Linked DNA regions of Homo sapiens: region 2 is linked to region 1. The links come from fine-mapping of genetic effects on plasma protein levels. Region 1 holds a variant in brackets. A gene starts in the other region. All regions are shown on their reverse strands.

Region 1 (15,281 bases):
GTCGGGGCAAAAACTACTCACATGCAGCAATGGCCATCTACTCTATTTTGAGCCTGTGTTTTGTTTCATATTTAGTGTATTTGATCAGGTTGTACCCTGTGGTTTTGGTGGTTGACAAGAAGTAACATGTAAATTATGCTACTACTTCAATAGTTTTTAGGGGGAAATTACTCTGTTAAATGCAAGAAAAACTTTTTAGGTATAAAAGTATAAGAAACTAAAATAGGCAAGGAGGAAACCAATCAGAAACCAGAATTTCATTTGGAGTAGTCTCTTCCCACAAAAACAGATACTGTAAAATGGAACTATGCAGAAAATAATTTGAAAGATAAACTACACTTTTAAAATCATATAGTTCCAAAGGTAAATAAACATTTTTGGAATCACTGCCAATTGCCTATATGAATTCCAAAAGGTAAGGAACTCATGAAAGAAAAACTCCAAGACTAACTCACATTATTTTGCCTTAATGGAATTGGGTTACATTCAATATTGTTTTAAATAAGTGGACCACTGGTTGGGGTCTAGAAATTGTTTGGTTAGAGGGATATTTTTGTTATAATATTTGTTATAATCAGATTTGATTTGTACATCTCCCAAAACAAATGTTGTGACACTATAAAAAAATTTCAGGATCTTACGCCAAACACAACTAGCTCTTTAAAAATTTCATTCCTTGCAGAATGAAAAGACTGTACAATTCTCTCTGATATTTATTCTGAATATTTCAGCGATGTATCCTCCACGTTCCTGAAAGCCAAAGGCACATAATTTATAGCAGGGTTTCTAAAACCGTGCCCTTTTCACTGGTTGCTGGCATTTAAAGCATGTTTTCACACATCTTGCAATGTTCTAAGACTATCCACATTGATTGGAATTACATTTTAAAAGCATTTTTAATTGAGTCCCTGTGCTGAGAGTTTTCTATGCTCCACCTGCCCTCACTTGCACTTGTTTCTTTAACATAACTCTAATTGTCGCTGTAGAAAGTTTCCACTTTATCTGGTCCTTCCTCTTAGGGTTTTCTGAGCTACAGAAACACATGCTCCTTTCCCTTATCTTTTAAGTAACATACATCTCTACAAAGAAACACAATTGATGCTAAGTTCTGATAAACAGAGAAATGTGAATCCCTCTTAAATCAAATTCCAAACCTGAGCTAAGCAAGCAAAAGTGGCATCTCAGGTAGGTGATAAAGAGTAACAAAGATTCAAGAATTCTCAAGCACAGCTGACCCCACAAAGGCTTCTTGGGCCTTTGGTGAAGATTCCACTTCTCTAAAAACAAAGGTCTGGCGGTTGGTAAGAATGAACCGCCTCAAATATGGCCTCATGTTTCCCAGGTCCTCTGTCTCACAAAAACAGGTCATGCAGGAAGCTGACTCTATACATCCAGAGGTAGAAAACATGTAGAAAAACAGATTCACTTGAAAGACATCTCCTAAACCTTTGCCAGACCCACCCTGGCTCATGTGGGAAGTTGAAATCCTGTCTGCTCAGGGGCCCCTCACTGCCCGCCCACAGTGGGAAACTTGGCCATGTTGGTTGGTTATTCTGGATTCTCCTGTGGGAAAACCACACTCTTCCCATGAGGGCAAACACCATCTTATGCCCAGTGTGTATCTTACTTTCCAGGACTCTGGCCCCTTTGTCATTCTTATTAAGAAAATATGAAATCTGCTAGAGCCCTGTTGGTATGACTCTTTGAGCAAGCTGAATTTCCATTCTGCGCACCCTCTCTCCCCAGGACAGGAGGGCTCCTTGACATTGTAGCTCTGGAAGACAACTATGTAGCAGGGCACTAATCACTGAAAGGGCATCCCCCCTCCCCCACCACCACCTCTGCAAAAAAAAAAAAAAAAAAAAAAAAAAAAAGTGTTTTGTTTCAATGGCCTAAAAAGCATAGGCCGTATAAAATCTTCCAGACTGACTTTTTTTTTTTTTTAACGGAGAAACTGAGGCTAATCTTCACTGAAAACAAAGCAACCAGGGATCACACTATGAGAGGCATTCATGTCTTGAGTAGGGGTGGGAGTATAGTCCTTAACCTCCCCTTGCTGAACCAGGTCTGCTGTTCCCCAGCACCCTGAATACTGCAATCACTCCCTTCCCTTCAGATATACTTCTGTCAAAGTCCATAGCAAGGCTGACTCACTGCCTTGTGAGACTCCTCAGTTAACTCGGTCTGAAGAAAAGAAGCTGCAAATAAATCAGTATTATAGTGCAGGGATGTGTGTTCTTTCCCCAAACAGCCAACCTTATTGACAGGGATTAGGTGTATGAGTAGTAAAATAATGAAAAGCAGCAAGAGTCTCTCCTGCTCGACAAGCATCTGTTGGGTATACTCCCTCTCCCCACACAATTAGAGGAATGCCAGAATTGTTATGGTTTACAACACTGGAGGGAGAAGTCCATTTTACAGATAATCTGACACGAAAATAAAAGAGGCTCTCTGCAAAAACGGTAAACTGTGAGATCACAGTCCTCGGGCCACTCGTTGAGCTCGTCAGGGTAGTTATTAGCTTTTCCTACCAGTAGAAGCACACAACACTAGCATGGCAGGTGAATGTCTTTTAAAATCAGGATTTAGACTGACAGGAACCCAGAAGGTTCTTCCTCTTTGGTCTCCAATTTCATCCATTATGAGCAGCAAGTAGTTTTGCTGTAAAATACATAAAAGTCACATTCTCAGCCAAGGTTGAACTATCCCTAAACACAAAATCCCCAATGGAATTAAATATGTGCTAGGATCAGCTAAAGTTAATTCTCAACCATCTGCATGTACAAGATCCATTTTGTAGATTTTTTTTTAGGCAAAATTTAATCTCAATAATTTCCCTGTGGCCTGGCACACTTCTAGTTTGCTCCTTTCTGCTGTTAGTTTTGTGTTTGTTTGTGGAATGCAAGTTAATTTAAATATTAACCCTCCAAAGAATAAACACAACCAGGTCATTTTCAAATTACTCATACTGTACACTAAAAAAACAAACAAAAAAAAAACCAATAAGGACCTACTATATTGGGCAACTTTACCACTCCCATGTTACACAGATAGAGAAGAAGACTGCCAAAAATCACAAGGATGGTAAATAGCATAAGGCATGATTTGAACCCAGACCACCTGGTTCCAGAGGATGAGTGTCTAGCTGGTATTGCTACACTGTTTCCTGCCTACTGGCTGTCTAGAGTTCATAGCATGCCACATGCACAGAAGTAGACAGGTCCCAACACACACCAGCTTCCCAACCTTAAGAAATGCAGTTTGAACAGAGTATGTAGAGTCACCTTGAGTCACCGTTAACAAGGGTGATATTTTAGCTTTAAAAGCACAGCAAACATGAATACCTGCTTGAGCAGTGGGAAAGGAGGGGGAGGAAAGACTGAGGCATATCTGTCTGTAAAACAGGTCTTTTACAAAAATATGCTTACCCTTGCATCTCTGGTCACTGCCTGAGGGTGCAGTGTACCAATCTTTTTGACGTGGCCTAAGTAAATTTCTCTTGAACTCATTCTTTTCATTTGTGAGCCTTTTGTTGTGCTTTTGCCCAGGGTCTCATAATTTTGGAGTCATGCTGAGTCAAGTCGGTGTAGTCTCTTTCTTTCTTCTGGCTTGTTAATGGTGATAAACTTCTTGCCTTATTGTCTTCTCAAGTTTTTTTTTCTTTCTTTTTTTTTTCTTATTTAACTGTTACTCATTTTACTCTTTAGCTATCCCCTCTAAGGTGAGTCTTTTCAAGTTTTCTACTTGCACGATTTCCCTACCTCCTCTCTTGAGTAATAAACCCTGGAAGAACTACCAACTACTTAATCACATAGATGCATTTATCCCCATTCAGTGTCTGTCATTTCAGGGGTTTCTTCCTCATGAACTTCAGATCTAGGCCTTTACCATTTGACCATCTAGTACTGAAACAAGCAAAATATCTTCTGAGAGCTGAAACGTGGGGAGCATTCATGTAACTTTTTTGAGTGGAGCACAGCCATGTAACGCATGCCCCCATTTCTGAGAAAATCCTGACCTCTTCTCACTGGTCACTGCTCTCTAGGATTAAGATGCTGCAAAGACTAAAACAATTGGGCCATTCCCACTTTTAACAAACTCAGTAAATTCCTATTCTTTCCTAGATTTGGTCACATGAAGTACTGGAACAAGCACAATTACACAAAGGTATAATCCATTCTTTTTGTCACCAGTAGCAGAGGGGAATCCAATAAATGAGGTTGGAGAACAGAATGTTGAAAGGAAGCCTTAGCCTCTTCCTTGCTCAGACACTAGGTGAAATAATACCAACAAAACAATGTGAGTGATGGTGCCCAGAGCGCCTCAGACCAAAACTGCAGGCCAAAAAAAAAGACATAGCTTAATTTTCCTGACTATTCAAATATATTTTTAGTAACTCTTCAACTATCACTGAAACGCACTCTTCCAAAAGACATTTTAATTGCCTAAATACAGTTTCTGCCTATTCTTGCCCATGTTTTTTAAACATTTTTCTGGCCTCACTACTTATTCCAAATCTTCTACTTGTCAGAGAAGGCATATTCTGTGACAATTTCCATCTATCAAACGGTGGTGAGTTTTGCTGGCTTTTAAACAACTGCCATAGACCTATTTAGATAAACTGTTCAGAGGGACCTATCTCTGAAGCCTAACCACCTCCACTGACCATGTGTGCACTGAAAATGAACTCCTCAGCTTCTGAGTCAATACTCAAGGGGAACTTTCATTTGGAGACATTTTAAAGGAAGAAAAAATATGCATACAATCCTAAGCCAGGGAGACTTTATATTTTGGTTTGTGATAGGGAAAATACATGCACAAATGAAGCCTGGGGAAGCCTAAATGCAAAATGAAATAATCGAGCAGAAGGATGGCGGGCTTCTCCGACACTCAATCATTTTCAGTCACACTATGTTGTCCAGTAACCTGCATTGATAATTCCTCATGAATAAAATGCCAGCATTATCATCTGCAGCTACATTGTTGACATGCTTTTGCTATTTCACTAAAAATACCATTAATTTTCTGGCTTCACAACAGCTGAGCTACTCTCCATTTGAATATACAAAAGAGTATTTTGTTTAAAGCAAATTAAAAGCGTTCCAGTAGATGACTTCCATTTGCTAGCTATACTATTTTAGCATATACTGTTCTTCTTAATCCTCCCCACCTCAACGTCATGCCTGTCATCTCCCCAGTCCAAAATACTTCTATTATTAAAATTTTGTTTTAAGTTGAGGAGGGGGAATCTGGAAACTATTTCTGTTGTAACATTCTTGGCCTGCAAGCCACCTGACTGGCATGGTAAAGAGCGTGGCTTTTTGAGGGTTACAAGATACGGTGACCTCCTTGATTCTCTCACCTCTGTGAGCCAAGGTACATAAGCAACAAAATTTTCCAGTTTGGTATCGGAAGGGTAAACTGCTAAACACACACACCGAATACACCTTCCACTTCCCATCTAGATACGTTCCGACATCCTCCACTTCAGTCAGAAAGAAAACCACTACTCCTGCCAAGCCCTCCTGGCATCTCACCACTTTATTTGTTCCCATTTGTATCTAATGCTTTTGTCAACAGTTCAACAAAAGTCAAAGCAAACAACCCACTGCAAACACTGGGGGTAACAGCAACAAGCATGAATCCTTCACAATTATCCAGCCCAGCTGCTCACAGCTCGTCTGGGCTGCTTTCATTAACAACAATGTCAACAAAAGACTGAAACCCACCCAGTAACTAGATGGGTCAATACCACCACTGTATACCCTCTGTAGGAGGAAACGCTGTTCTCCTTTGTTGCTTGGGCAAACATGTAGAATAATTCAGTCAGATGGACAAGTGCTTGTCTAATCATTTGTTATGTGAATTATTCAACGACTTTTCACGTAAACTACTAAATAGGGCTCTTCAAATATTTCTGTGGCACTTCCAGCTGTCCAACTGTGGAAGTGCATAAAAGGAACAAAGGCAGATGAAAAGAGAAATCATGACCCGAGTTAGTTCCCAGTGATAATCTTTAGTTTAAGAATCTCGAATCTTCATGACTAATCCTTTTAGGCCTAACCCTTGCCTGGCATTTTCACTAGCATCCAATCTTTACTATGTGGACCAGATTGAGGGTGGGGTCGTGTAGAAAATCCTGACTTCGAAGCTCCACACTATCTTTACCTTGCTCAGCTTTAAATGGTACCCCAACTCCCCACCTTCCTTTCACAAGCACTTCCAATAGGCAGGATACGCATTTCGGATTTTTAATGGAGTATTTTAAAAACATACACATCCGTAAACAGACTATAAAACACAGTGTCAAAGCAGCTGTTCCTAGAGATTATCTTTAATGTTTTATATACATATATATATGTGTATATGTATGTTATATTTTAGAATTCCCTGGATGAATTTTGATTAAAACTATTGACATTTATTTAACAAAGAATTATTTTAAGATAAAACAGTTCTAAGTTCCCTTTCTTTCCTCTTAAGTGTATAGCTTATGAAATCATGTACAAACCAAGCAGCCTGGCGAGAAGGAGAAGGGCCCCTGACGTGGGCCCTGGCCCTCAGTTGGCTGAGCAACACCCTGTAAGACCAAGGGGGCATGCCCACACACAGCCTTTGTCCGTGGCCTCTACACCATGAGCTGGGTACCCAGGACCCTGAAATTCCCTGCCCTAACACCCCAGGCCCACTTCCAGGGTTTACTCAGTCTCAGTCCTCTTCCTGAAGCCTCCCAGGGTTAGATCAAGCTGCTGGTTTGAGTGTGTCTAGATCTGGGCGCAGCTGTAGGGGTTCGATGAAGCTTTGAAGTAAGAACTAGGGTGTGTACAAGAAAATACGTGAGGACCCACGTGGTTAAAGCAATGAACTCCAAAGTGCCTGAGAATTTTAAATTCCAACCTGGTCTTTCAGGTTATCACTAAGGTGTATTTATTTATTGGATTTATAACTTTTAAATACTTCAGTGTATGGTATGAGGGCCTCCATTTGGACTCTTTCACTGTCCCTGGGTAGGCCCAACAGGTTAAGTATCAGGTACAGTTTTTGGTAGCCCAGTCTTAAAATGCTGAAGCCACTGCAATCACCAAATGTTTCCATGTAATGTTGTGTGTCTAAGAAAACAAGCAGCATTTTTTTCCCCTAAACATTTTCACTTTTATAGATACACATATCTACAACACTAATTAAAGTGCTGATTTTATTTCTATTACTGCTTTTAAAACACAGTAAGAGTAGAAAAGTTAAAAATAAAATTCAAGAATTATGGCTATTTACCAGCCTAGTACATAGGAACATGACAGAGATTTTAAGAAACTGTTAAAAATAGATGAAGGGGTGGGGCGTGATGGCTCACGCCTGTAATCCCAACACTTTGGGAGGCTGAGGTGGGTGGATCGCCTGAGGTCAGAAGTTCGAAACCAGCCTGGCCAACATGGTGAAACCACATCTTTACTAAAAAATACCAAAAACAAAAAATTATCCAGGTGTGTGGTGGCACGTGCCTATAATCCCAGTTACTTGGGAGGCTGAGGCAGGAGAATCGTTTGAACCCAGGAGACAGAGATTGCAGTGAGCCGAGATCATGACACTGCACTCCAGCAGCAGCTTGGGTGACATAGGGAGACTCCTTCTCAAAAAAAAAAAAAAAAAAAAAACAAAAAAAAAAAACCCCACCCACACACACACACACACACACACACACACACACAGATGAAGGAAACAGCAGAGATTCATACTCATTCCACCTCATTCCTGCTTCTCACTCTAGCCAGTTTACTCACTGCCACTTGTAATTGTGGAATTTCTACTTTTTACCACCAGTGTCTACAGATTTTTAGTTCTTGGCATAAAAAATTGTGCTTTCAAAAACCAAATAACAGTCCAAGACATAGAAATAAAATTTGAGAATTTTACTTCCTTCTAAAGGTCTCTAATAATCCGTGTTAACTGTTCTACTTCTGAAGCTGGCTTCAAGTAACAACTAGAAAGCTGGCAATTTTTAAAAATACTCTTGAAAGAAGAAAATATCATCAGAGCTAAATGGGAGCAGCAAAAAAACAAATAAAATTATTTACTAATTTTGAAAACAGAGAAACCACCTGAAAAGCAAGTGAGGGTATTCAAGTGCCAAAAAATCAGATGATAAATATTTTAGCTCTGTAGTTCAATTGTTTTGCCGATTCCTACAAAACACTTTCTGAATTCGAGTAAAAGGCCCATATCCCGATTGGGAGTCGACAGAACGTTGCCACTGGCATTACTGTCAGTGTTTGCTAAAGGTTCATGTTTGCATGCATTTGCACATCAGCCCGGGCAGCTTCCTGGGAAGACTGCCTTCAGAGCTAGTCCTCCCATCATCATAAACTGGTTTTATATGCACATTTTAAAGAATTCAGGACTCACCAGAAGCTCTGAGAAATGAAGAGGAACGATCCATTAATATATTTTATTCTACTCAGAAGGCAGCATATCGCAATTCCATATTTTAACAGGAACATGATTTGAAGGAAGGGATTGTATCTAATCTTTACTGTGCACCCCCAATGCAGTACAGGCCTGTTTGCCCTCCAGCTGCTGAATCAATACCTACTGATTTAAATATTTTATTTGGACTGCAAGTTCATCTGTCAATACCAACAGGTTTCAAAGTCAGGAACCATTAATATAATTTTTAGTCAGTTGTCTAACAAAAAACAAATCAGAAAAATCTCTCAGCTACATACAGAGGTATAGCTGTGCCTTTTTAATAATCAAAGGAAAACATATACAGAATTGACAAGGAGTTCTTCCCACCTAAATACCTTTCAGTACTAATGCAATCGAACTTCTGTTTTAATACATTTGTTATAAAGGAAATTTTCACCCTAACAATTAACCAAATAGACTACATCCATCGTGAAACATTTCATATGTAATATTCTTCTTTCATTTCTCCCCAGGAAAGAGGGTTGACCCATAAGGAAGAATGGAGAGAGAAAAAAAAAGGGAGGCACAAAGAGAAAAAAGGAAGAAAAGAGAAG[G/A]GAATTGAAAATGACAAGGGTGAGCAAAACAGTTTACAAGTGAACATCTGGTATTGACAGGAGGAACTGAACACAGTCTGTACAGTCATGCTGAAGTCTAGAAGGAGGATGGCAATTTGAAAAGAGGGAGGGAAGAAGTGGCAGCGGGAGGCAGGAGGAGGGAAAGAACAGAAGAGGTCAGGGGTGGGGGACTAACTAACAAAAGTACTGTTCCTGGACGCTTACGTATTTAGTCATTATTTGCTCTATTCTCCCAAAGGCAAAAATGTCACCAGCTTAGTTTAAAATTTCCCTAAATAAGGTCAGACTAGGTTACTAACAGATTTTATCATCAAATCAGATTCCAGCCTACGCATCCAATTCAGGAGTCTCATTCAGAGCAGTGACAGTCCAATATGGTTTGGTTATAATCCCTGAGGCGGGGGCTGGGCCAAGGATGTGGAATAACTCAGCTTTCAAGTCCTGATAACTGTGGTACAAACACAAGTGATTATTTCAATTTTCTCTGCAGATTATTTTTTCAGGGCAACCCAATAAACCCAATAATGCCCAGATTTACTAGAAAAATTTTTATTCATTTCCCCATGCACCAGAAAGTAAGCTAATAACATCCCGCTGAGAGTGCTGTCAGGCTAAATCCCTGCACTGCTGAATGCACTGCCGGGATAAATCTCCCTTCACTTTCCATTCCACTATCCACTTTAGGGCAAGGCCCTGGGGACTGCTCCAGATTACCCCTCTGCACGCAGTGTCACAGGCACAAGCCCGAGTGGTCCAATCAGTGCCAAGAAAAGAACAAACTAAAAAAGATTAATTCACAGATGTTCATGCATTTCACATACACTGTGCCCCGTGGCCCGTTGCTAGGGCAACGGGAGACCACCAGTGCGCGCTTTATTGGCTTTATGAAGTGCGTCTCGGGGACTATAGTCCGAGAAACGCTGCATAATAATAGTGTGGCTTTTCTGAAGCCTTGTTTTGTGTTTATCCACATTTAACCTTCTGAGTATTATAAAGAGCACCCTTATGCATAGCTTTCAAGCACTCCTCCCTTCCCCCCAAAACTGCCACAACTTTCTATCTAGAAACATTAAATTGCATCTCTTAGGGGTCCATTTTGGGAAGACCCATGTTTATATTGCTCAACCAGTTCCGTGACCAAAAAAAAAAAATCTACAACCATTTAAAGATCACTACTATATTAGTGCAGCTAACCACATCAACCACCCAAACCCGAATACACACATGCCTTGTTTTCTATGAAACCAGGGGAACCTTGCTTTTGAGTATCAGGAGTCAGTTTTAGCCAGAAGGAATGTCAGAACCAGCAAGCCTCATCAGAGTCTGTCAGAGACGCAGCATCATCCAATAGAACTCTCTGCAGCAGTGGGAAGGTTCTGTATCTCTGCCGTTTTGGCAGTTTCTACAGCCACGTGTGGCTACTAAGGACTCGATATGTGGCTAATATAACTGGGAAAATGGGTTTGAAAATTCTATTTCATTTTAACTTTAAATAGCTTCATGTGACTAGTGGCTACACCATATTGGACAGGGCAGCCTCAGAGGCTTACCAGACAACTATCTATGTTTTTAAAAGTTCCTAAAAAGCTGTCTCTTCAAGCTTTTAGTTTCTGCTTAATTCATAAAAATATAACTTCAAGTAAATGTACACAGAATGGTCTTCATGATTGCCGTTGCCGCTAGCTGTGCGAGTCCCAATCAGCCAGAGTCTTTGTGAAAAAGGCTGAGGGAACAAGACTAACTTTCCCCTCCTTCTCCACCCCCACCCCCACCCCCACCCCCACCCAGGTTGGGAGGTTAAAATCACAAATGTCACGACTCTCAGAGCAGTAGCACAGATCAAGTGTTAATCTAAAGGGAAGGGGTGGGTGAGGGGGAGAACACAGGCTTGTGGGGGCGAGGGAGGATCTGGAATGAAGAGGAGAAAAATAAAGCCAGTGAATAGATCAATAGAAGCAACAGCTTACATTCAGATTCACAGGAGAAAGAACACACGGAGACAATCATTTCCTGGGAAAAGCTCAAGCCTAATGAGAATTTACTCTGCTCCTTTATGCGACAACCAGCCCTTTTGTGGCACGGGTTTCCTGACTGACAGGAACCCGGGGCCCCTTAATAGGATTTCCATATTATTTCCAACACCTGCCCAGAAGTTATTTGTTTACATCGAAGGAGGCAAGATTCTCAAATCAGACATCTGCTTCTAGTTCAGGCATATCTTAGGAAACCATCTAGAAAGCAGCTTTGTTACCATGGTGACATTTTTATTTTCCTCCTTTAGTTGGCTCAAAACATTAGCATTTCCAATTTTATTTTGTTGTTCAAAAGGCCAAATGTCGCTCACAAAAACAGAAGTTTAAAAAAAGATAAGTGAATAGAATTCTCAAAATTCTCTAGAATAATTAAAATGACCATAAGGAGCAATAAATAACAAGGAGATCTTATTATATAAGCCTACTGGCTTCTCTCACTGGGTGGCATCACTAACTTATTTACCTCCCCTCTCCCAGCCCTCTTCTATTCTCAAATTTGAAGTCAGCAACTTGAAAAGTAGCAATTTAAAAAAGAAGATTCAAGAATCCTTCAGGATATGATACAATTAAATAATGAGTCCATTTCCATGAAAAAGAATTCCTCATGCTCACCCTTATCACCATATCTTAGAAAGTTCACTTACAACAAGAATACTTAAGACATTTTAACTTCCACCTCACTGCCTGCATTTCTGTAAAAGGGGAGGGAAAGTGTAAGCTTTTCACGAACATTTAGTGGATGCAGAGGGGATGGAATATTAAACAGTGTGAAGGAAGAAAGGTGGACCGCACGTGAGCGGATTACATGTATGTGTGTGTTGTTCTCCAGTTTCTAGTGAAGGAAAACTAGAGGCAAAACTGAACCCAGGGGTTGGGAGGAGGAGGGTACTTAACCACCAATTCCAACTATCACAAATGAGCGGGAATTTCTTATGTTACATTACAATACTAGAACTCTCAGCTTACACTGTTTTTAAGCAGTAAAATTTATTACATACAAAAATAATTGGATTGGTTCTAAATAATGAATAATCTGATAAAGTTAAAGCAATGTGACTTATTTTATTCAATATTTAGATTCAAAGAAAAACAACTAAGTATTCAATGCTAACATTTCAAGTTTTGATTTGCCAAGTCTAAGCAGCATTACTGAGTTTTGAAATAACTGTATTATCTTCATTTAACAGCAACCTTATTTAAAAGCATCAAAAACTCTTTCAGAAAGTACTACTCAGCTCCTCAGCAAACTTCCTTTCTATTACTCTCTCATGAAGCCTGAATTCTCTTCAACCCTTTCACAAGGCAGTTGCCATGGCAGTAATCAGATATGACTCTCTAAGTCCAAAATTACAGCCCTTATTAAAGTGGTGGGTCCTACGCGTAGAAAGTCTTTTAACCCAGAAGATAGCTGAGCTACTTCAAATCACCACAGAACAAAATACATAAGTTGGACAGAGGAAAGTGTTGCAGAAATAATTCAAGAAAGAAGAACAAGAGTATTAAACTACCCCATGAGTGATTTTATAATTTTTCCAGAGTGGGGTTAGTGTTACTGTAAGAATACAAAAAAAAGATGGTGAACGATTCTTTGGAATAATTCCATTGGAAGAATTATCTACATTTTGAGAAACAAATGTTTTTGAAATTCAAGCGTCAACTATTAAAACTTAAATCTTAGGCCCCTCTAAATTTTTAAAAATGTTAACTATAAACGTTATAATATTTTTGCAAGAGATGAAATGCATCCTAATTAAGAAAATTAGAAATTAACTAAACATCAGTATGAAAATGTCTAATAACTAAGAGGGATGGTTTATGGAGGGAAAGGAATAAACCATTTTGCCAAATCAGCTGGAGAAAGCCAACCTGCCAACCAGGCCGCCCCTGTTAATTAGTATTTGTTCTGCTTCAGCGATCGGCGGAGGAGGGTGCTGCAAAACAAGCGTGTCTCCCCGAGTCACTCACATCATTAATCCATTTATGCTCACCACCTGAGGACCAGCTATGCCCTAAAGATATTTATTCATCTGTTTGACAAACAAACAATTACCACACATTTTTCTAGAATTAGGACACCTGTTACGTTTCACACAGTTTACATGCCTAGAGGCAGGTATCAATTAATACTGAACAAATTACTGCATCATAGATTCATAGAACAAAACTTCTTAACTGTTCCTTGATAACTGTAAATAGTAAAATACATGGTAGAAATAAATACCTAAAAGTCTTGTAAACAAATAATTAAAAAGCAATAGCAATGCTAAAACACTTAATTTCAAATTACCATCTTATTTTGTTATTTTGGGAAATTGAAAGAGTTATAACGTTAAATGCTTGAAAGGCATACTTTATCACCCTACCACCGAACCCCTCAAATGATTTCCTCACTTCTAACCACTGTGTTTACTTGGCTAATGGTATGGCCAACTTTATTGCTGAAACATAACCTATGGTATAAGATTTTTATTTCAAAATTTGTTTCTAGGACAGGACTAAATAACACATAAGAAAATAGCTACATTCCAAATACTTGGAAGAATGCCTTGAGTTACAGCCTTGAGATCCATGGAGGTTAAGTGACTTGTCTATTGATATTCAGCTTACCCAGTGGTAGAGAGGATTGTTGCAGAACCTGGCATAGCCTTCCTACAGAATGGCTCATATTCTAAATGTTTCAGTGTGCTTCCTTGTGGTGTCAAGAATACTTCATGGTGAATTACACCAGGAAAAGCCTTTTCCTTATGATGGGAGAATGGGACAGAATGAAATCTAGGTTTGTCTGTATACATTGGTGATGAACAATGAAATGGATTTTACCAATAATCAAGGGAGTAAGATATCTAGAAATGTATGCTGACCGTAAAAAGGTAGAGTTCTATTTCTATTCTTTAACCTTGAAACACAGGCTATGATGTATTTGAAATACAAATCCACTGTCCAAATAAGTATTGCTCAAGATAGGCTTTTAAAAACATATTTTAAAATATGATTTTAAAAATATATTAAGTACTTCTATTTCCTTATTAGGTGGTATCCCTGATTCCCCATGCCCTAACTAAGTAAAGTTCTCTTCCCCTAAATTTTTAGCTTCTTGAGGGGAAGAGTCTTAATCTGCTTTGTGGAATTGTATAAGAGGACAAATCGAAGATTAGTTTGAGAAGGAAATTATGAGTTAGGGAGTGGCAAAAAACAAAAATTTTTTTAATAAGAAAGATTTATAGAGACCTAACAGAGATCACAACAAAATAAAATGAATCCTATTCGAATCTCATTTCAAGTAAACCAATTATTTGAAATAATCAAAGAAGTTTGATTATAAGCTGGGTATTAGAAGATATCAAAGAATTATTTTACTAAGTGATTAAAGGCATTATGGTTATCTAAAAAAAAAAGGGCCCACTATTTAGATAATGTGTTCATTTTGCATATTGAAGTACACAGGAGCAAAATGAGCATACAAATACTTCGGCAAAGAAAAAGTATAGATAGAAATATGGCTACATATTGATAGCTCTTGTACCTAGTTGCTGGGTGTATGAGGCGTTCTTTGTACTTTGTAGTATGTTTCAGATTTTTAATAACTGAGAATGAAACTGGGTTACCCAAAGAGCTTTCCTTTGAGGGCGGCGCTGGCTGTGTGACCTTTGACAGGTCTTCACACTTCTAAACCTTTCCTCATGTATGAAATAAGGGTAAGCATAACACCTACCTTCACCAGCAAAATCTAACCTATGAGCTATACATGCAGTGGGGGCTGCTCAGAGGAGATCAGTAGGACTGAGTGGACACTGTGGACCCACCTTATTTTTCCCTAGGTTACAGTGGATATGCTGAAGTGTTACAGCCCTTAATTAGACAACTTCTCTTCTCAGATTGCTGATTACTGAGGGGAAAACAGAAGATACCAAAAGTCCATGACTGTTTTGTTTGCTTAAACACTCTTTAGTGTTCTGTGGATTTCAATGATTTCCCCTTTTTAATCTACCTTTCTATTATTTTATGCCTTTGCCTTTTTACAATATGTACTTCTAAAGTCTGGAGTAATACAAATTTATCCCAGCAAGTTATCTCCCAAACGGTAAAACTCCTACTTAAAGGGGTGTATGAAGTAATCATTCTGTTAATTCAGACTAAAAACCCACATTCACCGGTTAACACCCAATTAATGAGGCAAAAGTGCTTTCTTGGCCTGAATCATGCCCTTCAA
Region 2 (15,281 bases), not on the chromosome of region 1:
AGATTTCTGTATTTCCTGTGAGTGTTAGGAGTTCCTCAAGCCAGGCCTAGAAAGCATTTCCTGGAGCTCCCTCTATCCATGCCACAGTGTTCATTTCCAGAATTTTGGCCATGCTGAACTCAGGTTGGGGAACCATAGAAGAAAAAATGGTAAACTTGCTGCCAGTTCAGTGATACTTCAAATTCTGGTGTTTTTCTATGACAAACATGTTACAATTCATTTTTCAGGGTTTTCAATAAGCTGATGCATATATTCTACCCACATTTTAGAGTTGTATTCAATGGGACAGAAAGGATGGAATGTGTTTCCATCATTTTACCTGGAACTGGAAGCCCTCAATAAATGTTTAAAGCTAAAAATAATACATTTTCTAAGATCAAAATGGAATTAAATATTAAATATATTAAATCAATAACAAAAAAAGTGGAAAAAAAAATCCAAATATTTTGGAATTAAACAATATACCTCTGAATCACCTATGGATCAAAAAAGAAACCATAAATTAGAAGATATTTTTAACTGAATGAAAATGAGGGCCCTGCGCGGTGGCTCACGCCTGTAATCCCAGCACTTTGGGAGGCCGAGGCAGGTGGATCACGAGGTCAGGAGATCGAGACCATCCTGGCTAACACAGTGAAATCCCGTCTCTACTAAAAATACAAAAAATTAGCCGGGCATGGTGGCGGGCACCTTTAGTCCCAGCTACTTGGGAGGCTGAGGCAGGAGAATGGAGTGAACCCGGGAGGTGGAGCTTGCAGTGAGCCAAGATAGCGCTGCCACTGCACTCCAGCCTGGGCGACAGAGCGAGACTCCGTCTCAACAACAACAACAACAAAAAGAAAATGAGAAGATGCTGCATTCAAAACAATGCTTAGATGAAATTTTACAACATTCATTGCTTATACTAGAAAAAGAGAAAGGGCCAAAAATCAAAGAATCTAAGCTTCTACCTTAAGAGACCAGAAAAAGATGTTTATATCCAATGTACAAACATGAAGAAAATAAGAGCGGAAGTCAATGAAATAAACAAACAAGGAAAATTAATTATACCAGAAACTGTTTCTGAAAAGATCAATAAAATTGATAAAATTGATAGAAAAAAAGTGTGAAGACATAAATTGCCAGTGTTGGCCAGGTACAGTGCTCATTCCTGTAATCTCAGCACTTTGGGAGGCCAAGGTGGGCAGATCACTTAAAGCTGAGAGTTTGAGACCAGCCTGGCCAACGTAGTAAAACCCCATTTCTACTAAAAATACGAAAATTGGCCGGGTGTGGTGGCTCACGCCTGTAATCCCAGCACTTTGGGAGGCCGAAGCAGGCGGATCCCGTGGTCAGGAGATCGAGACCATCCTGGCTAACACGGTGAAACTCCGTCTCTACTAAAAATACAAAATGGTGGCGGGCGCCTGTAGTCCCAGCTACTCGGGAGGCTGAGGCAGGAGAATGGCGTGAACCCGGGAGGCGGAGCTTGCAGTGAGCCGAGATCGTGCCACTGCACTCCAGCCTGGGCAATGAGCGAGACTCTGTCTCAAAAAACAAACAAACAAACAAAACGAAAATTAGCTGGGCATGGTGGCGCACGCCTGTAATCCCAGCTACTTGGAAGGCTGAGGCGCAAGAATCTCTTGAATCTGGTAGGCAGAGGCTGCATGAACCGAGATCATGCCACTGCACTCCAGCCTGGGCAACAGAGTGAGACTCTGTCTCAAAAACAAACAAACAAACCCCCAAATTGCCAGTGTTAAGAATGAAAGAAAATATAAGGCCGGGCGCAGTGGCTCACGCCTGTAATCCCAGCACTTTGGGGGGCCGAAGCGGGCAGATCACAAGGTCAGGAGATCGAGACCATCCTGGCTAACATGGTGAAACCCTGTCTCTACTAAAAATACAAAAAAAAAAAATTAGCCAGGCGTGGCGGCGGGCGCCTATAGTCCCAGCTACTCGGGAGGCTGAGGCAGGAGAATGGCGTGAACCCGGGAGGCAGAGCTTGCAGTGAGCCGAGATGGCGCCACTGCATTCCAGCCTGGGCGACAAGTGAGACTCCATCTCAAAAAAAAAAAAAAGAAAGAAAATATAAATACAGCTCCTACATACATCAAAAGGATAATATGAACAACTTTTTGCCAATAAATTTGCCCATAAATAGAATAAAATGGAAAAATTACTTGAAAGATACACATTACCAAAACTAAAAACGCAATAGGAAATCTGAACAGACTTTCCTGAATTCAAATAAATTCACAATTTAAAATCTTTCAACAAAGAAAATATCCAGTTTCAGATGACGTCTCTGATGAATTCTATCAACTATATAGGTAGAAATAATTAAATGGAGAAAAGTATTTTCAATAAATGGTGCTGGAACAACTGTATATATATGAAAAAATCTAATTCATAATGATCATAGACACACATCAAAGCTGAAACTATAAAAATTATCGAAGAGAACACAGGCTGGGCATGATGGCTCACACCTGTAATCCCAGCACCTTGGGAGGCTGAGGTGGGAGGATTGCTTGAGGCCAGGAGTTTGAGACTAGGCTGGGGAACAATAGTGAGATCTGTTCTCTACACAGTAAAATGTTTAACTAGTGTGGTGGTGCATGCCTGTAGTCCTAGCTATTCAGGAGGCTGAGGCGGGAGGATCACTTGAGCCCAGGAGGGGCTGTTTCTCTTGGATTTTTAAAGTAGACAATCATGTCATTTACCAATAATGACAGTTCTCTTTCCCTTTCAACCTTCATATGTTCCAATCACTTGTCTTTCTGTATGGTCTGGAAGAATCTCATGGAGAACTGGTGGCACGAGCGTGCTTTCTCTTGTTCCTAGCTTAAAAAAAAAAAAAAAAAGTCCTGACCAGTAGCGGTTCTAGGAGAGGGTAAGAATTTGCGGAAAATGTGGCGGAAGAGGGAAACGATCATTGTCAACAGTGAAAGGGGTCTCAGGGACAGAAGCATTTAGGAAAGAAAAGAAGATTGCTTGCCAAGACCTGGCAAATAAATCAGGCTTTAGAAGGACAGGCTTGCCAAACTAAAACCACAACAAGTATTGAAAGGGAAATTCTCCAAGATTACCATTGTGAGCACGTTTTTATCAGTCTACTCATGATGGCAAAACCCAGCGCTTTTCTCACATGATTTTCATATGCACGAAAGGTCATGACCTACCCAGGCGTCAGCATTGCAAACATCAGGGTTAGAGTTGTTTTTCTAGGGAGTCAGCAATTTATAGAAAATGCTCAATGTTTAGTTTATTTTGGGGACTAGAAGAACTATTTTTTTCATGAAACCCGCAAGCAATTTATCAGCGAAATTCTGTCTGCTCTACCTTCACAATATATCCAGAATCACAACACTTCTGACCACCTCATTTCTCACCTGGATATGACAGCAGCTTCTTACCTAGACTCTCTGTTTCCAGCTTGTTTCATCAAATTCACAACACAAAAGCCACACCGTTACAGTTAACATATGTCAGGTTATGTCATTCCTCTGCTCCAACCCCTTCAAAGTCTGCATCTCTGACTCAGAGTAAAAACAAGTCCTTAATAACAGCCAACAAGGCTCACATTTTCCCCCATCGCTCATCTACTCTTCTCCTCCCTGACTCACTTCTCTATAAAATCTCTGGCAAGTCTGTCAAATGGATGATCCTCATACACACCAGACGTTCTCCCACCTCAGGGCCTTTGCACTTGCTCTGCCCGCTCCCTGCATCACTCTTCCTGCCAGAGCCCCTTGTGACTTGCTTCCTTACCTCCTTCAAACTTTGCTCAGATATCACCTTCCCAGTGAGGCCTTTCTTGACACTCTGGTATGGTTTGGATCTGTGTCCCCGCCCAAATCTCATCTTGAATTGTAATCCCCGATGTTGGAGGTGGGGCCTGGTAGGAGGTGATTGGATTATGGGATGGATTTCTCATGAATGGTTAGCACCATCTCCTTGGTGCTGTTCTCATGATAGTGAGGGAGTTCTCGTGAGATCTGGTCTTTTTTTTTTTTTTTTTTTTTTTGATGGAGTCTTGCTCTGTTGCCCAGGCTGGAGTGCAGTGGCGCGATCTCGGCTCACTGCAAGCTCCGCCTTCTGGGTTCATGCCATTCTCCTGCCTCAGCCTCCCCAGTAGCTGGGACTACAGGTGCCCGCTACCCCGCCTGGCTAATTTTTTGTATTTTTAGTAGAGACAGGGTTTCACTGTGTTAGCCAGGATGGTCTCGATCTCCTGACCTCATGATCCGCCCGCCTTGGCCATCCAAAGTGCTGGGATTACAGGCGTGAGCCACTGCGCACAGCCGTGAGATCTGGTCATTTAAAATCTGATCCCCTGTCTTTTCTCTTGCTCCTGTTCTTACCATGTGAGGCACCTGCTCCCCCTTCATCTTCCACCATGATCATAAGTTTCCTGAGGCCTCCCCAGAAACTGAGCAGAGGCCGGCACCATGCTTCCTGCACAGCCTGCAGAACTACGAAGCAATTAAACCCCTTTCCTTGATAAATTACCGAGTCTCAGGTATTTATTTAGAGCAATGTGAGAATGGACTAATACATGCCCTATTCTTGAGGGACATTAAAAATCAACCCTATCTCATATCCCTGCTCTTTTTCCGCAAAGCACTATTGCCATGTGGCTTATGTATATTTTACTCATTTATTTTGTTTATTGGTGACCCACTAGAAGGTAAGCTCTATGAAGGCAGGACTTTTTTGTCTGTTTACTTTTGAACTCCTGAACTCTGCCTCTTGGGAAGGAAAGTGCTTGGCATGCCGTAGACTCAATAAGTACTCAAATGGATGAATAAATGTGTATAAGAGTGATTGGACGTATGTTTATTGCAGAACTATTTACAATAGGAAAGACTTGGAACCAACCCAAATGCCCATCAATGATAGACTGGATAAGGAAATTGTGGCACATATACACCATGGAATACTATGCAGCCATAAAAAAGAATGAGTTCATGTCCTTTGCAGGGACATAGATGAAGCTGGAAACCATCATTCTCAGCAAAGTAACACAGGAACAGAACACCAAACACCGCATGTTCTCACTCATAACCGGGAGCTGAACAATGAGAACACATGGATACAGGGAGGGGAACATCACACACCAGGGTCTGTCAGGGGGTGGGCGGCAAGGGGAGGGAGAGCATTAGGACAAATACCTAATGTATGCGGGCCTTAAAACCTAGGTGATGGGTTGATAGGTGCAGCAAACCACCATGGCACACGTATACCTACGTAACAAACCTGCACATTCTGCACATGTATCCCAGAACTAAAAAAAAAAAAAGAAGCTTCAAACCCACTGAACCAGACTGAAAAAAAAAAGTTAGTGAATGGAGAAATATCATGTTCTTTTCATGGAAGATTCAACAATGTCAAAATGTTGATTATCTCCAAATTAATATGTGAATACACTGCAAGACTGTGGTAGACACACAGAGAGCTACCCAGGTCCCCCTTCTAGGAAGGATGTGGTGACCCACTGTGGGGAGTGTAACCTGCAGACAGCTGCTTCCTGAGGTCACACCCATGTCAGGGCTGACTGCCAGTGACCGAAGGAGCTGGTGCTCTACAGGACCCTGTGGCAGTCCAATGCTGGACAGCTCCCGGGGGTGGCATTGTTTGAACCCAGAGCTCCCTGTTGGTTTGGTTGAAGCTCTCCAAAGTGCTGGGCTTCTCCCTCTGCCCAGCACCATTTCATCCACTTTCCTTTTCGAAGTGCTAATCCCTAATAAATAGCTTGTACCCCAAATTCAGCCTCAACCTTGGCTTCCAAAAACCGAACCTGCGACATATACTAATCAAAATACCGAATACCAAATAAAAACAAAACTGGCAACGACCTGGCCGGGTGCGGTGGCTCGCGCCTGTAATCCCTGCACTTTGGGAGGCTGAGGCGGGCAGATCATGTGAGGTCAGGAGGTCAAGACCAGCCTGGCCAATATGGTGAAACCCCTCTCTACTAAAAATACAAGAATTAGCTGGGTGTGGTGGCGGGACCTGTAATCTCGGCTACTCGGGAGGCTGAGGCAGGAGAATCGCTTAAACCCAGGAGATGCAGTAGCCGAGATTGTGTCACTGCACTCCAGCCTGGGCAACAGAGTGAGACTCTGTCTCAAAAAAATAAATAAATAAATAAAATAAAAAAGAAAAGAAAAAGAAACAACTTAAATTTCTGATTTATTTCTGTCAATAGAGAAATGCTAAATAAATAAATTACGGTGCCTATGATGAAATGAGGTGCAGGTAGATCAAGTACATTTTATAAACTGATGTGGAGAAATGTTCCTGATAGCTTGTTAACTCCAAAAAAAAAAAAAAAAAGCACATAGCAGAACACAACCCCATGTACATACAAAATATAACCTAAAATGTATTTCTTCTCCTTCTCCACCTTGTAAGATACTCAGTTTCCTTCCTACTGAAAGGGATGTGCGCGTGGATTCAGGGCAGCTCCCTTAGGGGTTGAGCAGGGATCATGGGATGAAATGGAATCCTGTTCATGAAGACAGCGCCTGTGCTGAGAGCCAGAGCAGGGTGCCAAACTGTCTCCTTACAAGCTGTGAGTGATCTTGGGCTCTGAGCCTTTAGTCCGTCATCCAAAATGCCTCCCCAGGTGCTTGGGGGGAATGGTTGTGGAAGGTAAATGTCTGGCATAATCCTATCACAGATTACTCAATAAAATTTGCTCTTTTCCTTGGCTTCTCCCGTCCTATTAGGGCCAAGAAGTTCTATTCTCTGGCACCCCCTTCCCTCCTTCCGAGTGGAGTGAGGCGAGCGAGGCCACAGCTGAGCAGCCGAATGACTGGGACCCAGAGGATGCTGATGCCAGGGACTCAGGCCAGGATTGAGCAAGAGAACAGACTGGGCTTCTCTAGGATCAGAGGTGCGATGATGGAGACCCAACAATTCTGGGAAATGTAGAGGCAGGAAGTGAAAGGAAGTGTAGGGTAGAGGAGCAACAGCAGATTGTACCTCTGATCCAGCCCTGCTCCCAGATGGTAAAAATGAGGAAGCTCCGAGAAGAGGAAAGGAAGTAGGCATGGCCTGGAGGAGGAGAACAGAGCTGGCCTCAAACCCAACTCTCCCCACCCACACATGGTCTCTGTGTGTTCTAATCCCTGTTCATTCTCATTTACTGTCTAAAGTTGAGGAGATGGGATGTCCCAGATGATAGGGCTCCTGGGATTTCAGACCCAAGACCAGCAGGACTCCAGTCACCTCTACCCCAGCTCTCCAGGACACAGCGCTCCCAACTCTGAGTGACGTCCCACCTCTGGTCCTTGCAGCACAACCAACGTGGGAATCACACCCTCCAGACCTCCCACAGGTAATGGTGCTGCCGGTGCCGGTGAGACCCAGGGGACAGGGGATGTCAGAGGAAGCAGGGAGAGGGGGACTTTGGGTCTTGGGTGGGACTAAATGAAAATAAATATAAGGCGGCAGTGTGGGGTTTAATTACTACGTGGAGATTTGAGACTCTGTTCCCTTCACTGGATTCTAGATTGGGTTACGGCAGCCACAATCCCCTGTCATAAACTAAGACTCCGGGAGCTGAGGCAGGAGAATCTTGTGAACCCAGGAGGCAGAGGTTGCAGTGAGCCGAGACGGCCTCGTTGCACAACAGCCTGGGCGACAAGAACGAAATTCCATCTCAAAAAATAAATAAATAAAAATAAAAATAAACTAAGACTCAGACTCAGCCTCATTGGTGGCCCATTTCCAGCCTTATCTTCATCTCAGCCCAGCCATGCCCTAATCCCAATACTAACCCCAGCTTCTACATTTTCTTTTTTTTTGAGACTGAGTCTCACTGTGTCGTCCAGGCTGGAGTGCAACGGCACAACCTCGGCTCACTGCCACCTCTGCCTCCTGGGTTCAAGTGATTCTCCTGCCTCAGCCTCCCAAGTAGCTGGGATTACAGGCGCACACCACCACACCCAGCTAATTTTTGTATTTTTAGTAGAGATGGGGTTTCACCATGTTGGCCAGGCCGGTCTCAAACTCCTGACCTAAAGTGATCTGTCTGCTTCGGTCTCCCAAAGTGCTGGGATTTATAGGCGTGAGCCACCGCACCTGTCGCCCCCCACCCAGCTCCTACTTCAACCCCAACCCCAGAATCAACTTGAATTTTAACACCAGCCCAAAGCCAAAATTGAACCTCGACTCTATTCTGTTTCCAAATTCACCACCAAAGTTAACCCCAATTCCATCCATGGCTCCAACGTGCATACTGACCCCAATCCTAGCATGAGATACAACCTCCAGTCCTGCCTGATTAACTGGCCCACTGGGTAGTCCTAGCAATGCGTTTAGCTCCAACGTTACCCTCCAGTTTCACTCCCAAACTCAACTCGACCCCAATTCTAACTCGACTGCAAACCCAGGCTCATTTCCGTCTTAACCCTGGGCTCATTCTCAACCTGAGCCTCATCTCCCAACTCAACGTCAGCCCTGCCCTTGGCTCCAACTTAGTCCCAACCTCCTATTCCCCAGCTCCACCCCAGACTGGGCGCCGGCCCTGCCTCCATTTCAGCTGTGACAACCTCAGAGCCGTGTTGGCCCAAGCATGACAAGGACGTATGAAAACTTCCAGTACTTGGAGAATAAGGTGAAAGTCCAGGGGTTTAAAAATGGTAAGAGGAAAGGGGAAACTCTCCTAAAATGCCCTCTTTATATGTTTAGAAGGATTTCTCCTATCATTTCTGTACCTCCACCACGCGCACTGGTGGGTCCTAACTCTGAGGAGGTCAGGCCCCAGCCTCTGACGGGCCTAGTGTGAAGAGGATGCAAGGTCTCTAGAAAGACTGGGACAGGGAGGATCACAGTGGACCCAGCTTCTGATGCTCTGTGGGGTGGGGATGAGAGCTGCGCATTGGTGGAGGGAAAGATAAGTAGTTGGGTTTGGAAGGAAACTCATTTGTGAACCTGATTGTCCAGCAGGTAGGTGAGCATAAGCCCATGAAGGGCTGGCTGCCCCCAGCTCTCCCTGTGTCCTCCTGCCCCTGCCCCCAGCTCTGACCATGGGACCCCTCATATCGCTATCACGTGGGTCCCCAGGGGTGTGAGGGGCCTGTGTGACTGAGGACTTGTGCTGGTCCCTGAAGTCAAAGGCCTGGGCATCCCCCACCCCAAAATCCTCCTTGTCCAACCCTCCCCTGGAGTCCCCTGTGCCCAGCCCTCCTCACTAGACAGCTCCCTGGGCCCTCTCCTTCTCCCGTCTCCGGTGTCTGGACCCTCCTCATCCTGACACTCTCTCCTCTTGCAGGGCCACTTCCTCTCCAGTCCCTCCTGCAGCGTCTCTGCTCTGGGCCCTGCCATCTCCTGCTGTCCCTGGGCCTCGGCCTCCTGCTGCTGGTCATCATCTGTGTGGTTGGATTCCAAAGTGAGGGTCACAGGGGTGGACAGGGAAGAGAGAAATAATGGGGTAGAAGATAAATAATGGGGTGCTACAGTAGGGCAGTGGTGGGGCGATGGTGAGGTCCACAGTAGGAGCAATGCAGGGCACAGTGTTGGGGGCAGCTGTGGAGATAACAATGGGGCATGGTGAGGGCAGTGCTACCAACAGTCATGGGGGTCACAACAGAGCCACTGAAGCACTGATGGGGCACTGATGGAGTGATTGATGGGAATGGAGGAGAGGGCACTGATGGAGTGATTGATGGTAACGGTAGGGGGGCACTGATGGAGTGATTGATGGGGACGGTGGTGGGGGCACAGACGGAGTGATTTATGGGAATGGTGGGGGGCATTGATGGAGTGATTGATGGGAATGGTTGGGGGTCACTGATGGAGTCATTGATGGGAATGGTGGGGGGGCACTGATGGAGTGATTGATAGGAACGGTGGGGGGTCACTGATGGGGTGATTGATGGGAATGGTGGTGGGGGTCACTGATGGAGTGATTGTTGGGAATGGTGGGGGGCACTGATGCAGTGATCGATGGGAATGGTGATGGGAGCACTGATGGGGTGACTGATGGGAATAGTGGGGGGCACTGATGGAGTGATTGATGAGAACAGTGGTCGGAGCACTGATGGAGTGATTGATGGGAATGGTGATGGGGGCACTGATGGAGTGATTGATGGGAATGGTGGGGGGGCACTGATGGAGTGATTGATGGGGACGGTGGTGGGGGTAGTGATGGAGAGAGTTGACGGACCCATAGTCAGGATGGCTGCTGGCTTTGTCACTGAGTAGTTGGGTTATGTACTCAAATTACTTCACCTCTCTGAGGCTTAGTTTCCTCATCGGCAATATTGAACAATAATAGTGCCTGCCCCACTGGGTTGCCGTGAGGACCCAATAAGGCAATGCTTATGGAGGGCCCTGCTCGGTGCTGGTACAGAGGACCTGATGAATCCCAGCACTGACCTTCCCATCCACCTGTTTAGATTCCAAATTTCAGAGGGACCTGGTGACCCTGAGAACAGATTTTAGCAACTTCACCTCAAACACTGTGGCGGAGATCCAGGCACTGACTTCCCAGGGTGAGTCTGGTTTGGATGGGGCTCTGGGCTGGGGCCAGGCCAGGGAGGAGGAAGTTGACCCCTAAGCCAAGTCTCCGTGTCCTCCAGGCAGCAGCTTGGAAGAAACGATAGCATCTCTGAAAGCTGAGGTGGAGGGTTTCAAGCAGGAACGGCAGGCAGGTGAGAGACCCTCCGAGTATGGGTGTGGGGGGCTAGGCGCTCAGACACAGTGGAGGTGGGAACAGACTCCTGGTGCTGAACTGCCCTCCCCTTCAGCCAGCAGCTTGAAAGGCAGCATGCAGGCCGGGCGCAGTGGTTCACGCCTGTAATCCCAGCAGTTTGGGAGGCCGAGGCGGGTGGATCACGAGGTCAGGAGTTCGAGAGCAGCCTGATCGACATGGTGAAACCCCGTCTCTACTAAAAAAAATACAAAAAATAGCTGGGTGTGGTGGTGGGCGCCTGTAATCTCAGCTACTAGGGAGGCTGAGGCAGGAGAATTGCTTGAACACGGGAGGCGGAGGTAGCCGTGAGCCGAGATCGCGCCATTGCACTCCAGCCTGGGCAGCAAGAGTGAAACTCCGTCTCAAAAAAAAAAAAAAAAAAAAGAAAGAAAGAAAGAAAGGCAGCATGCTTTCTCTGGAGAGCAGGCTGGAGAAACAGGGGCAGAGGAATCCAAAGCAGATTTGATGGCTGTACCTGGCCATGATGTAGGGGGTGGGTGGGGGCGGGAAGGAACATTCCCTGGCTTGGCCCTGTGCAGGGGTATCTGAGCTCCAGGAACACACTACGCAGAAGGCACACCTAGGCCACTGTCCCCACTGCCCATCTGTGTGTGTCCCAGTTCATTCTGAAATGCTCCTGCGAGTCCAGCAGCTGGTGCAAGACCTGAAGAAACTGACCTGCCAGGTGGCTACTCTCAACAACAATGGTGAGGAAGGTATGGGGAGTACCTGGCCCTACTTTTCTGCCCATGGCCCACTGGGCAGAGCCTCAGCCTCTCCACCCTATCCTATTTCTCCCCAATCAGCCTCCACTGAAGGGACCTGCTGCCCTGTCAACTGGGTGGAGCACCAAGACAGCTGCTACTGGTTCTCTCACTCTGGGATGTCCTGGGCCGAGGCTGAGAAGTACTGCCAGCTGAAGAACGCCCACCTGGTGGTCATCAACTCCAGGGAGGAGCAGGTGAGGGCTTCTGGTACTCAGTTCCTAAGACATGTCCCATTTAGGGAAATGGTTCTTAAGCTTGGCCGCACATTGGAATCATCTGGGAGCTTCCAGAATGACTGTCATCTGTGCCACACCCTCAGAGATTTAATAGGCCTGAGCATCCAGAGAAACATCTCCAAACTCCTCAGTTGATTTAACGAAGAGCTAAAGTTGAGAATCACTAGTTTAAGGAGTTGGCTGGGATGGGAAGAAGTCACCACTGCCCTTCTGTCACCGCAGAATTTTGTCCAGAAATATCTAGGCTCCGCATACACCTGGATGGGCCTCAGTGACCCTGAAGGAGCCTGGAAGTGGGTGGATGGAACAGACTATGCGACCGGCTTCCAGTGAGTGCACCCTGGCTTTCTGTGCCAATGTCCTCCGTCAGCGTTTCCCCCAGGGATCTGACTGGCAGCCTCTCCTCCCCTGAACTGAATTCTACTCCATCTACCCTTCCTAGCTTGCTGTTGTCTTTTCCTCTCAGGAACTGGAAGCCAGGCCAGCCAGACGACTGGCAGGGGCACGGGCTGGGTGGAGGCGAGGACTGTGCTCACTTCCATCCAGACGGCAGGTGGAATGACGACGTCTGCCAGAGGCCCTACCACTGGGTCTGCGAGGCTGGCCTGGGTCAGACCAGCCAGGAGAGTCACTGAGCTGCCTTTGGTGGGACCACCCGGCCACAGAAATGGCGGTGGGAGGAGGACTCTTCTCACGACCTCCTCGCAAGACCGCTCTGGGAGAGAAATAAGCACTGGGAGATTGGAAGCACTGCTAACATTTTGAATTTTTTTCTCTTTAATTTTAAAAAGATGGTATAGTGTTCTTAAGCTTTTATTTTTTTTCCAACTTTTGAAAGTCAACTTCATGAAGGTATAATTTTTACATAATAAAAATGCACTCATTTAAAGAGTAGAGATGACTTTGACAAATATGCATGCCTAGGTGACTACCACTCCGATCGCAATAGATAACATTGCCATCGCCCCCACCAGTCCCCTCATGCCTCTGGGCAGTCCAACCACTTCCCTGTTTCCAGGCCAGTGATCTACTTCTTTTTCACTATTTATTGGCCTTGCCTCTTCTAGAGCTTCTAGAACTTCATATAAGTGAAATCATACACTCTCGTGTATATACTTCATATAAGTGAATATATACTCTCGTGAGAACTTACGTACTTTGTGTTGCTTGATTTTTGGCAATCTAAAAATGGCAGAGTGGAGAAGCCAGGTGAAGCCTTCGAAAGTCCTATGTGATTGAGAAAATAGCATTTTCTTCTCATATAGATTTGAGTTCAAATCTTTTCTGTCACTTAAAGATGGTATAAACTTAGGGTGATTAGGAAAAGCCATTGTTTAATTTCTCTGAAGATCCCAGAGTTGTTGGGAGATGTAGATAAGATCCCCAGGTGTATTGGTTAGCAATTGGTGTGTAACAAACCACCTCAAAGCTCAGGGCTTATACAGTAAGCATTTATTATAGCTCATGAGGCTATAGGTCTGGTCTGGCCAGGTTTGGGTCATCTTGGCTGGGCTTGTTTATGCGTCCGTGGTCAGCTGGTGGGTTGGCTTGGGGTTGGCTGGTCTAGGGTAGCCTTGCTCCCATGTCTCATATTTGGCTGGCTCTGGGCTGGGACAATGGGGATGACTGGGCCACATTAGCTTAGCCTGGCCTTGTTCACAGAATGGCTGGGTGGGGGTCCAAGAGAGAAATTGGAAGACTGCAAGGACTTCAGAGCCTTGCTTGGAACTGAAGCATCGTTTTTGCTGCATCCTATTGGCCAAAGCAGATTGCAAGGCTGCCCAGGTTCAAGGGCCAGAGAAATAGATTCCACATTTTGGTGGGGGGTTGGGGGGGGGTCTACAAAGTCATACTGTGTAGAGAATGGATATAGAGAGGGGTGGAGATTTCTGTTTTTTCAATCAATCCAGCATATACCAGGGAAGCATCTCAGCTATTTTGATTTTTTTTTTTTTTTTTTTTTTTGAGACGGGAATTTCCTTCTTGTTGCCCAGGCTGGAGTGCAATGGCGTCATCTCAGCTCACTGCAACCTCCGCCTCCCAGGTTCAAGTGATTCTCCTGCCTCAGCCTTCCGAGTAGCTGGGATTACAGGAGCCTGCCACCATGTCTGGCTACTTTTGTGTTTTAAGTAGAGATGGGGTTTCTCCAGGTTGGTCAGGCTGGTCTCCAACTCCCGACCTCAGGTGATCAGCCCGCCTCGGCCTCCCAAAGTGCTGGGATTACAGGCATGAGCCACCACACCCAGCTGCATTTCAGCTATTAAGAACCAACTTTTTAAGTTCATTAAGGGATGGCAGGACCCATTCATTGCTGTATTACTGTACCCAGAAAGCTCCCTGGCATATAGGAATGTCTGAATTAGCTGTCAGGATTTGCTGATGGGTTGTCTGAGGGGTTTGGGAAAATGAGAAAGTCAAGGATAATTCCAGGTTTGGGGCTTGAAAACCTAGAAGGATGGAGTCCCAGTTAATTAAGATGGGAAGACCGTGTGAGAAGCTGGTTTTGTGGGTGGGATGAGGAGATAAGAAGCTTTATTTTGAACATGTTGAGTTTGAGGAGCCTGTTAGACTTCCAAATGGAGTTTATTCTTTTTTATTTTTCTGTGTACCATAGTAAACATTTATAATTTTATTCAAAGGGTTTTTTTTTAATCAGTTCCAGCAAGATACAGGTGTCAAAACCAAAGGATTTATTTCTCTTTCTCTCTCTCTACATATATATATAGAGAGACAGGTTCTTGTTCTGTCACCCAGGCTAGAATGCAGTGGTGCGATCATAGCTCACTGCAGCCTTGAACTCCTGGACTCAAGCAATCCTCTCTTCTCAGCCTCCTGAGTAGCTGAGACTATAGATGTGTGCCCCCATGCCTGGCTAAGTTTATTTTTTGTAGAGATAGGGTCTCACTATGTTGCCCAGGGTGGTTTCAAACTCCTGGGCTCAAGCGATTGTCCTGCCTTGGCCTCCCAAACTGCTAGGATTACAGGTATGAGCTGCAGTGCTTGGCCACAAAAGGGTTTATTGAAAAGAGTTTAATGACATTTACAGAGTGTGAGCAGGGTTGAGGAAGCCAACAAAAGTTGGTGAAGTCCCTGTGGCTAAGAATAGCAGAGACATCACCACTCTGAAGCCTGAAGGCACAAAAGTAAAGAACATCCACCCAGATCATCCACCCAAGCAGCTCTGTGCCTCTCTCCCCTGGGTCTGAAAGATTTTGGATCATGGGAGAGAAGCCACCCAGCAGGAGCGTGAGATCACAGTTCTACCAGGGCCACAGAATGTAGAGGGGAGCAGGAGAACCAATACAAGTCAGTTCCCTCTAGAATTTCCTGACCTGGTAATTCTGCTACCTAAGAAAGCAAACAATTACATTCTCTAGTTTTGTACAGGTAACTGGACGGCGGAGGCAGGGAGGGCATTAGGGAAAATATGGAGAGGGCGACTTTGTGTTATAGGTGGAAATAACTGGGAAGATGGATCACAGATTGAACTAGTTATTGGAGGAGATTGAAATGATCTCTCCACTGACTTCCAGATTGGGTTGGACAGCCCCAAACCAATACAATCCCAGTTCCAGCCCCAACTGCAGT

Alleles and levels. Alleles are on the strand shown, and positions count from the first base shown. The strength of an association depends on the size of the effect and on how common the allele is.
With allele G in place of A in region 1, the plasma level of the protein whose gene starts at base 7,131 in region 2 is lower (moderate association).

Evidence for each region. PIP is the posterior inclusion probability: the model's chance that the variant is causal. Protein levels are from antibody-based Olink assays in UK Biobank. Linkage for the fine-mapping came from a reference panel and not from the study's own genotypes, which makes the PIPs less certain.
Region 2: CLEC10A starts here. The variant in region 1 is fine-mapped to the plasma level of the CLEC10A protein (UK Biobank, PIP above 0.99).

The regions. Positions count from the first base shown.
Region 1 is chr9:79,658,589-79,673,869 of GRCh38, reverse strand. The region is part of intron 8 of TLE4 (TLE family member 4, transcriptional corepressor); the gene reads right to left. Among named protein-coding and RNA genes, the nearest start is that of TLE4, 94 kb to the right of the region's middle. RefSeq lists an enhancer at 10,251-12,665. The variant G/A (reference allele first, on the strand shown) is at 9,018.
Region 2 is chr17:7,072,101-7,087,381 of GRCh38, reverse strand. It overlaps CLEC10A (C-type lectin domain containing 10A), which reads left to right and starts at 7,131. Exons shown (of 9, transcript NM_001330070.2): 1 at 7,131-7,330; 2 at 8,497-8,636; 3 at 9,269-9,385; 4 at 10,395-10,490; 5 at 10,578-10,649; 6 at 11,311-11,397; 7 at 11,497-11,651; 8 at 11,916-12,022; 9 at 12,160-12,845. The coding sequence starts at 8,570. The coding sequence ends at 12,328.